2 separate regions of the Homo sapiens genome follow, and region 2 is linked to region 1. A link means that fine-mapping ties the variant in region 1 to the expression of a gene that starts in the linked region. Tissue or cell type: whole blood. Region 1 holds a variant in brackets; the other region holds the start of a gene. All regions are shown on one strand. Distances are from middle to middle.

Region 1 (8,000 bases):
GGGCCAGGTTTCAGGCCACACAGAAGGGACAGACAGAGCACTGGATCTGGAGCCAGCGAGGCCTGTGTTCAAATCCCGGCTCTGCCACATCCTGGCCCTATGGCCTTCTGAGCTTCACCTCACCAGGCCTCAGTCTCCTCATCTGTGGAATGGAGATATTAACGAGGCAGAGCATGTCCAGGGTTACTCTTCTCTCACATTCCTGTGTGGAGGCCAGGGAAGGCACGAGCTGACCTTCCAGGGCCTGTCCTGGTGGGAGAATTGTCATTGCGAGTTGCTGCCGCCCACGGTGGGCATGCAAGGGGCAGAGGACATTGGGTGGGGACACCCTGTCCTCTCTGGCATCAGCGTCACTGTGACTCCCATGGTACAGCCGGGGCCACTGAGGCCCAGAAAGGCAATGAAGTTCATGTCAGCAGTGGCCAGGCTGTGGGTGGGGGCCAGAAGACCTGGTGGGCAAATAACTGCTGGATCTGGCAGAACATTAAGGAAGGCAGCCTGGGGCAGGAGAGCAAGAGACCTGGGCTCAGGGCCTGACAGCTCAGGAGTCTGGCCGCTGCTCTCCACCAGCAGGTGGATCCCAGACTCCCACCTTATTTGGAGCCTCGTCTGGCTAGGGTTTACACGAACATTCAGTGGTGTCACGACAAAAAAGCACTCCGTTAAAGGTCAAGATGTCAGGTTGCAGCCTTGTGATGGATGGTCCTTGTTTCTGAAGTTTCCATCATTCACATCACTTTTCACAATTTCTGGCACCTGCCTTACTTATTTTTTTGAATCAGTCTTTCTTCCCTGTATTATTGTTTTTTGTTTTTGTTTTTGAGACAGAGTCTCACTGTGTTGCCCAGGCTGGAGTGCAGTGGCGTGATCTCAGCTCACTGCAACCTCCGCCTTCCAGGTTCAAGGGATTCTCCTGCCTCAGCCTCCCAAATAGCTGGGATTACAGGTGCATGCCACTACGCCTGGCTAATTTTTGTGTTTTTAGTAGAGATGGGGTTTCATTATGTCGACCAGGCTGGTCTTGAACTCCTGACCTCAAGTGATTTGCCTGCCTTGGCCTCCCAAACTGCTAGGATTACAGGAATGAGCCACTATACCTGGCCTGTTTCTTTTCTCTTTTTTTTTTTTTTTAACTTAAATACATTTATTTAGAAAGAGATTATTAGAACTCTACCAAAATTAAAAGATCTGCCTTCTTTGCCAAAAAGAGACAAAGACCATCAAAACAACTTCTAGAGGAAGGCCTTGAGCTGGAGGCCTGCTCTTTCTCTTTGTTAAAAAGGTAGATTAATAAGGGCCAGGAGAAGGTAAGTACCTAACAGTGACAAATTGAGACACTCTGTGTCAGGTAACTGACACTGGGCCCTGGCACCCTGCCTGGAACCAGCATGTGTCTGTGTATCTGTGGGGTGTGGGGGTCTCTGTGAGTCCCCCACCCATTAGGAACCATTGCACTGAAGGCTTTGTTATAGAGAGATTTGGGTTTTGTTGTAATTAGATCAGGCCCATCAGCTTTTTTTGACCTCCTTGTCCCTACTGAGGTTGCAGGACATAGAGCAACAACTCCCCCATGGGGAGTGTGACCAAGTCAAGGGGACCCACTGACTCATCCGCTTTCTTCCAGATAAACCGAGACTACTCCTTCCTTGACTACATCCTGGGAGGCTGCCAGCTCATGTTCACCGTAAGGCTCTCCCCGCTGGCTCCCTCTGCACCCCCATCCCAGTGAGGGTCCTCCCTGAAGACTTGGGCCACTAGTGCAGCCAGAGGGACTTAGGGTAGACTTCAGGAAGGACTTCCCTGGGGCAAAGAGTGTGTGCGGCCTAGTGAGGAGGGCATAAGTGGGCTGTCTGGTCCTGCTGGGTGTGCCTGAGTTGGGGCTTAACTACAGGTCAGAGCACAGCTGCACAGCTTTCAGTCTGGTGGCTACACTCCTTCTGCGGGTGGAGGAAAACAAATTCCTCCTCACTGGCCACAAGGCCTTCAGCGATCCCTGCCTCCTTCATCTGCAGCCTCCTTCCTCCTTGCTCACTGGGCTCTAACCACACTCTTCCTCTGTTTGCCCAACATGCCAAGCTTTGCTTCATGTTAGAACTTTGCATTTGCTGTTCCTTCTGCATTTGTTGTTCCCTCTGCCTGAAACACTTCCCCAGAACCTTTGCATGGCTGCCTACCTGCCATTTTTCAGGCCTGAGGAGGTAACGGAGGTCACCTTCCAGGGAGCCCTCCCTCCCTCAATGCCTTGCTGCTCCTCTGTCATATCTTCCTATTTTCTTTCTTTTCTTTTCTTTTCTTTTCTTTTTTTTTTTTGAGACAGCGTCTCATTCTGTCACGTGGTCTAGAGTGCAGTGGCACGATCTCAGATCACTGCAGCCTCCACCTTCAGCTCTCAGTTGATCCTCCCACCTCAGCTTCCTGAGTAGCTGGGATTACAGGTGCATGCCATCATGCCCAGCTAATTTTTGCATTTTCTGTAGAGATGGGGTTTTGCTATGTTGCCCAGGCTGGTCTCAAACTCCTGGGCTCAAGCGATCTGCCCACCTTGGCCTCTCAAAGTGCTAGGATTACAGGCATGAGTCACTGGGCCTGGCCCTCACTATTTTCCTATTTTCTGGGCACTTGCCGCCCCGAGATTCATATGCATTTGTCGCTTCTCCCTGATCGTCGCACCCACTGGAATGTGAGTGCTTTTAAGTGTGGGCACTTTGTTTATTTTGCTTCCACTCCAACCCCAGCATATCACACAGTAACTGGCACATAGCAGGTGCTCCATCATTTCTCGTTGGAAGAATGAACTGCCACCTTGCCTGTGGCCTGGAGTCTTTGCCCCACAGACTCTGTGCCACTCATCCTGGCTTTGCTTCCTCACCCCAAGGGAGCCTCAGGCCCAGAAGGGAGGAAGCTGCTGGGGTGCCACGCTCTGCCCACCTCCCCATGTTGTCTCACCGTTCCCCATCACCACCCCTAGATCCTAATGGGAAATGGAGGGCATCACAGGATGCCATGGAGTCAGAGGATTGGCCTTGCTGACTTCTGACCCTGCTGCCCACCACTGCCCCCTCCCCTGCACAGAGGCCAGGCCCTCCTGTTCCTCCTGCACGAGTTTGTTCATTCAGCGAACTCACACTGACTGCCTCCTTTGTGCCGGGCTCTAGGCTGTGTCCCTGCAGCGGTCCCTCAAGGACTAAGACATGCTGCCCCTGACCTGGGGGAGTGACCCTCTAGCCATGTGAGGATTTGGATGGGTGGCCCCTTCTCTCCTACCCCACAGCAACTGAGTTCCCATGTAGCCAAATCTTCCCCGGGGTCCTACTTCTAACCCTCCCCTGCTGGGCAGGGGTTGTTCTTGCCTACCCCTCTGTGCCCTTTCTCCAGGGATTGGGCTGGGATTCTCTGGGGCTGAGAGAGCAGGTAGAGCCCTAGTCCCTGCCTGCCCATCAGCCCCGAGTCCCTGTTAATAAGCACCTGCCTTGTCTGCTGTTCCCAGCCCTGGGCCAGGCTTCTCCAGAGTACGTGCTGCGGTGAGCTCCCAGCTGATCGGGGAGACGGGCACTGCTCTACCAGGCAACCCCAGGTCCCAGGCCCCTTGGTGGTCTGAGGGATAATGGGGAGATGGCTTGGGTTGGGGGTGAGGTTATCTGGGAAGGTTGCAGTGGAGCAGTGGCATCTGAGTTGGGCCTGGAAGATGGAGCAAAGTTAGACGGGAAGAAACGATAGCCTGGCTCTGCATGCAGAGCGAAGCTTATGAATAAATGCCTGCATATGGGAACAGATGAATGTGTGGATAGGGATAGTAAGGAGAAAAAGGAATCTGGGACTGTACGTTAGTCTCTTATGTCATCACATCTAGGCAGTGGACTTTATGCTTGGGCAATAGAGAGCCACAGATGGCATTAGAGCAGAGGAGTGATACAATCAGAGCATTTCTAGGTTTCAGACCATCTTATTGTGGGGAGGGCTGGGAGATGAGTGGGCTTCCCATGTCCCATCTACCTCTCCTATTCCCTGGGAGTGGGATAGGGTGCTGGGGTCTCTGGCCCCACTGGGTGGCCTTTTTCTCCACTCTGCAGGTTGGAATAGACTTTACAGCCTCCAACGGGAATCCCCTCGACCCTTCCTCTTTGCACTATATCAACCCTATGGGCACCAACGAATATCTGTCGGCCATCTGGGCTGTTGGGCAGATCATTCAGGACTACGACAGGTAAGGTTGGAGAGGGGCTCTGAAGGTCAGCTAGGGTTCCATCCAACCTGGGAAGCTCAGTGTATCAAAGCTAGAAGGGACCCAGAGATCATCAAATCTAGGAATGGACAGCAAATGGCA[T/C]AGGTGCAGTTATTACCCATTCCCATACCCTTGGCAGACATTGCTAATCAATTGCTGAACTCTAACCTGCCAAGCGCAGATTCAAACTGGGATCGTTTTCTACACAGTACACCAAGTAGCCAGTAAGAAAATGAATCATGATGGAAGATTAAACTCATTCATTATTGCTGCATCCTCTCCTTTTAGAGCTGGGGAATGGGAGGCCTGGGGTGGGAGTGGAAAATTTGTTCCAGGTCCCGCAGATCATGGGACCAGAGGCCAGCCATTCTGGTTCCTGGGCCTGGCGCCTAGTTCCCTAATGGTCTCGCTTCTATTGGGAACTTCTGAGGAGCAGCTAGCATGCACGGACCCTCCTCCCATGACCTTGCTTCCTGGGGACCTTTGGGTCGGGCTGGGTACCACGGAAAGTCAGTGAAGGGAAGCTGTGTGAAAGTGTGGCAGGTGTGGCTACCAACAGGATATGACATCACTGTCACAGATGGTGCTGATTGGGAGCTCCAGGTCAGAGGATGGAATGACCAGGAGGCTGACACATTGGGAACAGGGGAGGAAGAAGCAGGTGCCAGAGATTTGGCAGGAAAGACAGCAGGCTCAGGAGCCCTGTGTGGACTTGGCCTCCTAGAGAGGGGCAGCCAGGGATCTGTACAACATGCAGAGCAAGGGAGGTGGAAGTCATCATCAGCATGGTTGGGTGGAGTCCCAGGTGTCCAGCTGCCCATTCAGCCCATCACCGAGCTGTCTAATGGGCATTAAGACTTAGCATGGCCCCAGTGAGCTCTAGATGCCTGGCTGAGCCACCATCACTTTGTGCCCAGATCATTTCATTAGCTTCCTCATCAGTCTCCCTGCTTCTGCCCTGGCCCCCAGCTGTGTGTCCCCTCCACGGCAGCCAAAGGGATCCTTAGTAGATGTCTGTTGAGTGCACATACAAATGAAATGTGGTCCCTGTCCTCAGGGAGTTCTCACTTAAAGAGGAAGATAAGGAAGAAATCGTCGGAGTTCTGAGAGACCAGTTTACATGTGAAGCAGGAGCTATGGGAGCACAAAAAGAGAGGCATTTTAGGGTATCAGGGAAATCTACAGAGCGAAGGGGCCATTTTGATTGGGCCTTAGAGGATGAGTAGGAGTTTGCTAGAGGAAACAGATTAGGGAGAGATGTTACAGATGGGGGCACAACAGCATTGAAGTTGGAATGTGAAGGTACCCTATGTGTTTGGGGAATAGCAAGTGGCCAGTGGCCAGGGCTAGGGGAGTGGGGTGTGAAGGGGCGTGGGTGGAAGGAGATAAGACTAGGCTCTGGGACTGGATGACACAGGACCTTGAATGCCACAGGAGGGTTCTCATATTAGTAGAGTTTTCCCCAGCTATGAGCAGGAGGCTGAGAGACAGCCAGTACATTCATTCTACTTCCATCTTGACCTCCTGACCTTGGTTTAGTGGCTGGCTGAAGTCTCAGTTTGAGAAGGATCTAGAAGCTGTGCCCAGGCCCATTGGTTAGAAGTACCATTGTCGTGTCTGCCACAGGTATAGATGTGGTCAGGCCACATGTTCACCAGGTCCCCAGAGGTGGGTTGGGCTCATTAGGTAGATGATCCTAACAGCTTTTTCTAGAGGTGGTGAGCTCCTCCTTTCTGTCCTTGGAAGTGTATGAGGCAGAGTGGGCCCAGCCCTGGGCAGAGGGTCGGGTGGTGTCCTCAGGTGTCTTACAGTGTGTTTCTCTTCTCTCTCTGATTAGTGATAAGATGTTTCCAGCTCTGGGATTCGGGGCCCAGTTACCCCCAGACTGGAAGGTGAGTGAAACCGGAGTTAGTTTCCTTTTGGTTGAGATGGGGTTTGTGTGTGTGGCCTCTCGGGGATCAGCTCTGGAAAGGTCTTGGGCTGGGGCCCTGTTGCCCTGCCTTCCCTGTGTTCACCCCAGGCCACGCTCATTTCTCAAGCCTGATCCTTGGGCAGGCACTGAGGCTGTAACGGGGCAGCACGTTATGTTCTCTGTTTATGAGACCCATGTGGAGTGGGGGAGACAGATAGGATTGCCAGATGTCGCAAATCAAAATACAAGACACCCAGTTAAGTTTGAATTTCAGGTAAACAATGTTTATTTTTATGTGTTTATTTTTATTTATTTATTTATTTAGAGACAGAGTCTTGCTCTGTTGCCCAGGCTGGAGTGCAGTGGCACAATCTCCACTTACAGCAACCTCCGCCTCCCAGGTTCAAACAATTCTCCTGCCTCAGCCTCCCGAGTAGCTGGGATTACAGGTGCCCACCACCACCCCGCAGCTAACTTTTGTATTTTTAGTAGAGAGTTTTACCATGTTGACCAGGCTGGTCTCAAACTCCTGACCTCAGGTGATCCACCGGCCTCAGCCTCCCGAAGTGCTAGGATTACAGGCCTGAGCCACTGTGACCAGTGCAGATAAACAATTTTTAAAGTATAAGTATGTCCTGAATATTTCATGGGACATACTTATACTTAAATCATCCATTGTTTATCTGAAATTCAAGGTTTTGTATGGATCTAGGGGTACAAGTATAGTTGTATTACGAGGACGTATTGTGTGAAATATGGACTTTTAGTGTATTCATCACCTAAATAATGTACATTGTACCCAGTAGGTGGCATTTCATCCGTCACCCCTCCATCCTCTCGCTGTGTGGAGTCCTCAGTGTCTGTTATTCCCCTCTGTGTGTCTGTTCTGTGTGCACCCATTGTTTAGCTCCGTCTTATAAGGGAGAACATGCAGTTTTTTGTTTTCTGTTTCTGAGTCATAGTGGGCATCCTGTATTCTATATGGCAACACTAAAGACAGGTAGTGTCATCGGTGCTGAGGTGGGGGCACCGTAGGCCTGTGGGGAGCCGAGGAGGTAACCCAACCCAGCTTGGGGCCATCAGGCTTCCTGGAGGGGGCAAGCTCTAAGCCAAGAGGGGAAAGGGAAGTAGCAGAGTGACTAGAGGTGGCAGTGGGGCAGGGGGAGCCTTCAGGGCAGAGAACAGACTGTGCGAAGCCTGCAGGACGAGCTGGAGGAACTGGCAGAGGTGGGTGATAGACCCTCCATTGGAGGTGAGCAGGGTGGAGACAGATGTGGGCGTTAAAGGGCCACGGGGACCCCTGCAGGGACCACATAGGGGCTCATCAGCAGATTGGCATTTCTAAAGGCCTCTCCTGGCTGCTGAGTGGGGCGTGGCTAGGGCGAGAGTGGGCAGAGTGGAGGGTGGAGAGAAGGGGCGAAGGCAAGGAAACTCAGGGCAGAGGCCAGGACTTTCTGTGTGACCAAGTGAGTGTGGGCCGAAGAGGTCACCAAGATTTCCAACTGGGCACTGAGGCGGGGGTGGTGCTGCTTACTGAGATGAGGAACGGGGTGGGTGCTAGGCTCAGCAGGGGAGATGGTAAGGTGGGAGTCCCAGGAGAAAGGTGGATGATGGCTGGGCACAGTGGCTCACGCCTATAATCCCAGCACTTTGGGACGCTGAGGCAGATGGATCATTTGAGGTCAGAGAGTTTGAGATCTTCCTGGCCAGCATGGCAAAACCCCGTCTCTACTAAAAATACAAAAATTAGCCCAGCGTGGTGGCACATGCCTGTAATCCCAGCTACTTGGGAGGCTGAAGCAGGAGAATCACTTGAACTCGGGAGGCAGTGGTTGCAGTGAGCCGAGATCGTGCCACTGCACTCCA
Region 2 (8,000 bases), 33 kb before region 1:
GAGGATTGAGTGATTTCACCTAGGCAGCCGCTGAGCGGCTGGGATTCAAACTCATGGCCATGACTCCATGCCTGAGGTTTGACAATGGAGTCAGCCACACCTGCCTCTAACCAGGAGATCCTTGAGGGGATCCCTCAAGGATCCTGATATGTTTCCATATCAACCCCCTGTGGCACATGGTATTTTCTAAAGACAGCCATCACAGTATCTTCCGTCCCACATGCTCTTCCTATTATGTGACGGTGACACCCCTCTGTGACTACAACAGAAGTGACATTATGTGACTCCCAAGGCAAGGGCCTGAAACAGATGATAACGCTTCCACTTGCCTCTCTTGAAATGCTCACTCATGGAACCCTATGCCATGCCACTAGGAAGCCCAGGCTACAAGGAATGGTCTCAGGTAGGTGTTCCAGCTGACAATTCCAGCTGAGGTTCCAGATGACAGCCAGCGTCCAGTGATAGCCATATGTTCAAGAAAGCCTTCTAGACAATTTCAGCCACCACCATGATCTGACTGCAACTGTATGGGAAACACTGTGCAACACCTGCCCTCGATGAGCCCTGAGGACCCCGGAAGTGTGAGGGATAAGTTTTGGGGTGATCTGCGATGCAACATAAATAACTGGAACACCCTCCCTCCGCCAGTCCTCACACACTCCTGGCCCAGCCAGATCCCTGAACAGCTGGCGCTCCTTCAATGTGTCTTTCATTCACGAGCACACTGACATGCATGGGCAAACCTGGGTATTCTGATCCGTTTGTCCAAACAGCCTGGACTGTGAAAATAAACACCCAGATGGCAGGTGTTGACACACATACCCTGACATGGGTCTATTTCGGGGCCTTCAGGCCTCCCACTGTGCACTGAGAGGTCTCCACCTGGGCAGGGAAAGACTTCGTTTAACATTTTGCAGTCTTGTGTTGGGTGTGGAATGAGGATAAAGCATGTAGAATCAACCTGTGATGGATCCTTGGCCTTAATCAACTTCTTCAGGGCTCTCCTGATCCCTGGCCTTTTTTTTAAAGATAGCTTTATGGGGATATAATCCATACACCATGACATTTGTCCTTTTAAAGTGTGTAAGTCAGTGGTTTTAAGAATACCTACAGTTGTGCAATCATCACTATAATCTAACTTTTTTTTTTTTTCATACAGGGTCTTGTTCTGTCACCCCGGCCGGAGTGCAGTGGTGTGATCATGGCTCACCACAGCCTCAACCTCCTAAGCAATCCTCCCACCTCAGCCTCCTAACTGGGACTACAGGCAGGTACCACACCCGGCTAATTTTTTTTTTTTTTTTGGTAGAGATGGTGGGGTCTCACTATGTTGCTCAGGCTGGTCTTGAACTCCTTGCCTCAAGTAATCTGTCTGCCTCGGCCTCCCAAAGTGCTGGGATTACAGGCAGGACCGCACTCTGCCTAGAATCTAACTTTAGAACATTTTTTATCATCTCCCAAAGAAACCCTTTGCCAATAGCAATCACTCCCCATTCTCCACTCCCCGGCCGAGGCAACCACAAATCTGCTTTGTCTGTTTGTGGATTTGTCTATTCTGGACATTTCATCTAAATGGAGCCATGTAATATTTGTCTGAGACTGGCTTCTTTCACTGGGCATAATATTTTCCAAGTTTGTCCATACTGTAGCATGTATCAGTACTTCCCACCTTTCTTTTTTTCCTTTCTTTTTTTTTTTGGAGGGGGGATGGAATCTCCCTCTGTCACCCAGGCTGGAGTACAGTGGCGCAATCTTGGCTGCAACTTCCGCCTCTTGGGCTCAAGTGATTCTCCTTCCTGCCTTCCGAATTGCTGGGATTACAGGTTCTTGCCACTACGCCTGGCTAATTGTTATATTTTTAGTAGAGACAGAGTTTTGCCATGTTGGCCAAGCTGGTCTTGAATTCCCGACCTCAAGTAATCGCCCGCCTTGGCCTCCCAAAGTGCTGGGATTACAGGTGTGAGCCACCACAACTGGCCAGTAATTCGTACCTTTCTATGGCTGTATAATATTCTATGTTGTGTGGATATACCACATTTTGTTTTTCCATTCATCAGTGGATGAACATTTGCGTGGTTTCCACTTTTTGGCTATTATGAATAATGCTGCTACGTACATTTGTGTATGTTTTGTGTGGCCATATGTTTTCATTTCTCCCGGGTAGATATCTAGGAGTGGAATTGCTGTGACCCCTGGCCTTTGTACTCTGCCTCCTTGGCTAGGGATCTAGTATCTTCCTTGACAGGCCCAACTATCTCATCCTTCAGGTTTCTTAAAGGAAGCCTCGCTGACTCCCATGGCTGAGTTGGGTCTTCTGTGCCACCCTACCTCCAATCTTTGCACATTTCATATGGTGATATGATGGCCTGGGTCCTGATCTTGGCCCCCACAGGTGAGCAACTTGAGAGAGACTATCTGCTTTGGTTCACCACTGTCCATCCCAGTGCCTGGCTCTCCTGCTGCTGGAAAGACAAGAGACAGATTCTGAGGCCAGAGCAATCAGGAAAGTCTTCCTGGAGGAAGCGGGGCTGGAGTTGGGTTGATAGGTTGGTTTGCCCCAGAGCGGGGCAGAGGGCTTTGATTGGCTTCGGTGGAAGAAAGGTGAAGAGAGCTTGGAGAAAGGAAAGATGGATGGGTGACAGGCAGGCAGAGAACAAAGCTCAGAGCCCCGGGGGCTGTTTAGTCTCGGCCCCTGTAAGGCTGCAAAGTGCCAGTGACTCAGACGTGGAGGGAGGCTCACAGGCTGCAGCGCGCGAGGCTCCCACATTAACCCTCACCTGCCTGGAATCGAAAAGCCACAATGGAAGCACTCGGCATTAACCCTCAGCTGCCCAGTCCTTGAGCCCCAGGGCCAAGGGCTGTGGACATGGCCTTGAGATCCCCGGGAAAGCCCCGCCCCCCAGAATCTGGTTACGTGAGGCTCAGCCTTCTGATGCCCGGTGGTGAACTTGCCCAGAGAGCACCTAAATACCGCGGAGTGGCCAAAGGCTTGAGCGCCCAGCGACAGACAAGTGTCCTAAGAATTGGTGCCTCTTCTAGGGAAAAGGAGGCCTGGGCTCCAAGGCCTTAAAGACTCGCCTAATTTTCCGCACGGATGAGTAGACCCAGGCCCAGTTCGGATCCGTCTTTATCTTATCGTCTGTGTCAGAGAAATATGTCATATTTCCAATCTCTGGCGGCAAGAAAATGCCGAGCTCTTTTGCTATTGAAAAAAAAAAGGGAAGAAAACACTGCGGCCCTAATCCTGCCCAATACAACCCAGAACCCAGCCTTGGGTGTTGCCCCGAGGGCGCAGCGCCGCTCCCATCGGCGCTGGGGGTCCAAGCGGCCCTGGGGCCCCGCAGGCCCGGGCTGAGGCCACCCCTCTGTTCCCGCGTCGGTGGCCCTGAGCGCACGGCGCTCGGAACTCGGAGGTGCCAGAGGCTCGGGCAAAGCAGGCCTGGGGAGGGCGCGAAGCCGCGTTGTTCCGATCCTCAGCCACCTGAGTCCCAGCCTGGAACCTTCGGACCCTCGCGTTCGGCCCGAACGTTCGGGCCCCCTCGGTGCCAGGCGCCCCGAGTGCCGCGGCGCGCCGGGCGCGGGCTGGGAGCGGCGGACTGCGGGCGGGACAGCGCCCCCGCTCCTCCCGTGGGAGAGCGCGCGCCCCTCCAGGAAGCTCCCGCCTCGCCTCCCACTTCCCTCCCCACTCCCCTCCTCGGCCGGAGGGAGGAGCCCGAGCCGCCGCCGCCGCCGCCGCCCGCCCGCCCGGCCCGGGAGGAGGACCGGACCCCGAGCGGCTGGGAGCGCACGCGAGCGGGCCGTGGCCGCGCGGGCAGCGCCCTGAGCCTGTCCCGCGCCCGCGGGCCCGGCCGAGCAGGAGCAGCTCCCGGGGATGCCCGGGCGGCTCGGAGCGCGGGCAGCGGCAGCCGTGCGGTGAGGGCGGTGGCGCCCGCGGGACCTGCGGTGAGTGGGGCCCGGGCAGGCGGGGCAGCTTGGCGTGAGTGCCCAACTTCGGCCTTGGGGCTGGGCTCTTTGATCCAGCTGCGGGTCCGAAGGAACCCGGGTTCCGCCTCGGGGGGCTGCGGCGCTCTAGCCCCCGCCGCCAGCGCGAACCCGGACTCCGGCGCTTCGGTGACTCAGCTCCGACCCGGCCACGCGGGGGCGCCCCGCCGGCTCCCGGACTGCGGGGAAGGGCGGGCGGGGTCCCTGGGGAGGGGGGCGCCCTCGGGGGTCCGAGCCCAGCTGCTTTGGGGACCCTTCCACCCGCCCCGAGGGGCTTGGAGGGCGTACGGGAGGTGGAGACCCGCCGCTGCCGCAGCTGCTGAAGGCGTGAGGTCGCCCTGGCTCTCGGCGGGCGCTGGCTCCTCTCCGCTCCCCTCTGCCCTCCTCCCACCCCTCAACACCCACCCCCTGCCCCAGGCAACTGCCGGAGGGCCGGCTCCCAGCCCCGGTACTGGGAGCGCAGAGGGGGAGTGGAGCTGGGCAGCTTCCCAGAAGTCGGAGTGTGTTTGCAAACTAGTTTTTGCGAAAAAGCTGTCTGGCACCTGTGTGTTTAAAGGGGGTGTGGGGGTGGGCATGGAGAGAGCGGGCGAACAAGGCCCTCTCTTATTCCCCGTTTCTCACAGCGATGCTCCTCTGAAAATAGAGGGGTCTTACACCCTCTTCCCTGCTCTTCCCACCCCATCCCCCAGCCTCGCTCCACGTCCCCCCGAGTTCAAGAAGCTCTCCTATGGGGAAGGGGCTGCTTCAAAGGGGGCTGTGATTTGCCCAAGGTCACAGATGCTGCTGGCTCTGGTAGCTAATAGGGTGTTCATCTTGCATCTGAATCCCCTGCCCCATATGTACTGGGGGAAGGGACAAGGGGTCTGGAAGAATGATCTTCCAGACAAAACGCCCTTTTTTTTGTCTGCCTTAGTTTTTTGCTCCCTTAGAGGTGTGTGCTGTCATCAAAGGTTGGGGGGCTTTTTCTGCCCCTTGGGCATCCACAGCTTCACGGACTGCAGGGAGCCCATGGTTTTCAGGAAACAGGCGGTGTGCGCAGATTGTAATCCCTGGCAGCTGCAGCCTGCCCTGATGGGGAGGCCTGGGAGACCTGGGTCTGAACCCCACCTATGACCAACAGGGAACTTGGCCCAGACCCTCCCCCCCTGTGGCCCTCTGGGTCACCATCTGTGAAATGGGCTGATGTTCCGGGGCCTGCCTCCTGGAGAATGGACACAGCATGAAGGCGTGGTTTTATGGCATTCCGCCTGGCATAGGTCCAGGTGAGCTCCAGGACCGCCCCAGCCAGCTGGATTGGAAGGGGTCACCCAGGCAGGTTTCTCCATGGAAAGAACCAGGGACGAAGGATGTGGACGCTTGGGTTCGTTTTGCGGCCGTCACTTCCTGTCTGCGTGCCTTGTCACCCCTTGGACTTGGGGGGTTTTCTGTCTGTAAAATGAGGCAAACTGTGACATGATCCAGCTTACAGTAGGGCGGCTGGGAGGCTGGAACTGGGGAACAGGGAGCAGACGTTCTGCAAGTAGGGAGCACTTCATGAGTGGCAAGTGTGGTGTCTCTGGTGGTGTTCCAACGGACACTCCCTCTGGAATGTCATGAGAATTAAAAACTGGGGCATAAGGGAAGAAGATGGCTGAGAATGGAGCCTCGGTTTCTATGTCTGTAAAACAGTAAGTACTGGACCCCATCTGGTCCTCCTCCCAGTCCTCAGTTTTTATATCTATACACCTTCATATTCTTTTCAGGTAATTGTGTATTTCTGCAAAGGTAGGATTAAATTAGATTGCAAGGACTCGGGTGCCAGCACTTATTGGTACGTGGTGAGTGCCTGGTTAACTGTCATTGTCATTATCCATGGGAATATTAAGAAGCCTGATGTGGGTGACTGCATCCAGGATCCTTTGTGGGGTTGTCTCAGGCCAGCTTGCTCCTCCCCCTCCCGTCAGGACTTCTGGGCTGTTCTAGGGGCAGGGGCCTGGGGTGAAAGAAGACCAGGAGAAGTGGTAGGTCTCATCCAGGTGTCCCCATTTCCCCACATCTGGCTGGCCTCACAGGGCTCTAAGGAGTGAACAGAAAACAAAAGAGCACTCTCTAGTAATTTTCTCCCTCCTGTCAGAGCAGGAGGCATCATCGCCAGGCACGGTCCCGATCTGAGAAGCCCTCAGCTCAGGGTCAGGGTGCCCCCAGCCTGATGGAGGTCTCTGTCCCTCTCCCCTCCCCTGAACCTTATTCATAGATGGCACTGGGGCTACCGAATCAGGAGCAAAACACCTTGAGGACCCAGCTCCTTCCCCCTTGCAGAATATGGCCTCAGGGAGTGGAGGTGGGATCTCCCCCAACCCTGCCAGACACGGTGGTGTGGGCTCTGTGGGAGCTGGGATGCCAGGTCACCCTGTGATCTTGGCAGGCAGCATCTAGAAAAGTCCACAATCACACATCTCCCCACCTCCCTGTCCAGAAGGGAGGACATAGGGGTCCCACAGTGCCTGAGGACAGAGCCCAGGTTAGAGGCGCCTCCTGGCTCACATCCCAATGTCTTCTGCCCTCATTGGGCCACTGGACCTCGGCTGTCACTCCCATGGCAGAGTCAAGAAGACTGCTGTTCCATACCCTGGAATATTTCTTTCTTTCTTCCTTTTTTTATTTTTTATTTATTTATTTTTTGAGACAGGATCTTGCTCTGTCACACAGGCCGGAGTGCACTGGTGTGATCTCAGCTCACTGCAACCTCCACCTCCCAGGTTCAGGCGATTCTTGTGCCTTAGCCTCCCAAGTAACTGGGATCACAGGTGCACACCTAGCTAATTTTTGTATTTCTAGTAGAGACGGGGTTTTGCTATGTTGGTTAGGCTGGCCTTGAACTCCTGGCCTCAGGTGATCCACCCACCTCGGTCTCCCAAAGTGCTGGGATTATAGGCATGAGCCACTGTGCCCGACCATGGAACATTTCTTACTTATCTGGCCACACTTGCTCTGAGGTCTGCAATGAGACTGACTAGTGAGATTGTGTCACCATCCCTCCTCACTGCTGCATCTCCTGGTTGTATTTTTCTTGGGGCATTTGCCACTCTTTAAAACCATCTTCTTTACTCATTGGTGCACCAGCTTATCTGCCTCCCTCCCCAAAGGGTGTCAGATCCACAAAAAGGCAAGAGCAAACAGTGTCTGTCTTGTTTAGGGCCATGTCCCAGCACTTAGAACAGTGCCTGGCACATTGTAGGTGCTCAGTAAATCCTTGTGTGAGGAATGACTGCACCTGCCCCTCTTTGCAGCCTCCTGTTAAATGAGTCTGTGATGTTGAGTGATGGATCCTGGGAGAATTACGAGCTTGCCCTCTTGAGTCTCTGGAGGGATCTCTGGCTTACCATACTGAGTGCTGGAAGGAGCATGGCCTTGCTGACAGCTGGATTTCAAACTTGTAGCCTACAGAACTGTGAGAGAATCTAAGCCATCCAGTGTGTGGTGCTCAACTAGCCCATGGCCAACCAGAGTTTGAAACCCAGTAGCTCAGCTCCCAGCATTCACTGCACTCTTACAATACACTTTTCTCAGGTTGGGCATGTCTCTGAAAGACTGATGGGAGAGCCGGGCGTGGTGGCTCACACCTGTAATCCCAGTACTGAGGGAGGCCAAGATAGTCAGACCACTTGAGCCCAGGAGTTCAAGACCAGCCTGGGCAACATGGCAAAAACCCGTCTTTACCAAAATAAAAAATAAACAAAATTAGCTGGGTGTTGTGGTGCATGCCTGTAGTCCCAACTACTTGGGAGACTGAGGTGGGAGGATTGCTTGAGCCCAGGAGGTCGAGGCTGCAGTGAGCCATGATTGTGCCACTGTACTCCAACCTCGGTGAAACAGTGAGACCATGTCTCAAAAAAAAAAAAAAAAAAAGACTTGGGGTCCAACCAAAGGAAAGAGGGATTGCAGGAGTTGTCTGCTGGGAGTTGGGCATATTCCCTCCTGTGTTTTAGAGAGGGGACAGCCAGGGCACATCAGGCAGGCCAGATATCCTCAGCTCCTGA

What was found. PIP is the estimated chance that this variant, and not a neighbour inherited with it, causes the effect.
Region 2: it holds the start of CPNE2, and the variant in region 1 is fine-mapped to the expression of CPNE2 in whole blood (TOPMed, PIP above 0.99).

What each region holds. Positions count from the first base shown.
Region 1 is chr16:57,121,790-57,129,789 of GRCh38, forward strand. CPNE2 (copine 2) reads left to right here. Exons shown (of 16, transcript NM_152727.6): 10 at 1,625-1,684; 11 at 4,071-4,204; 12 at 6,060-6,114. Among named protein-coding and RNA genes, the nearest start is that of CPNE2, 33 kb to the left of the region's middle. The variant T/C (reference allele first, on the strand shown) is at 4,325.
Region 2 is chr16:57,088,849-57,096,848 of GRCh38, forward strand. CPNE2 (copine 2) reads left to right here and starts at 3,735. Exons shown (of 16, transcript NM_152727.6): 1 at 3,735-3,942. RefSeq lists silencers at 3,257-3,326, 3,347-3,596, 3,707-3,756, 3,817-4,226.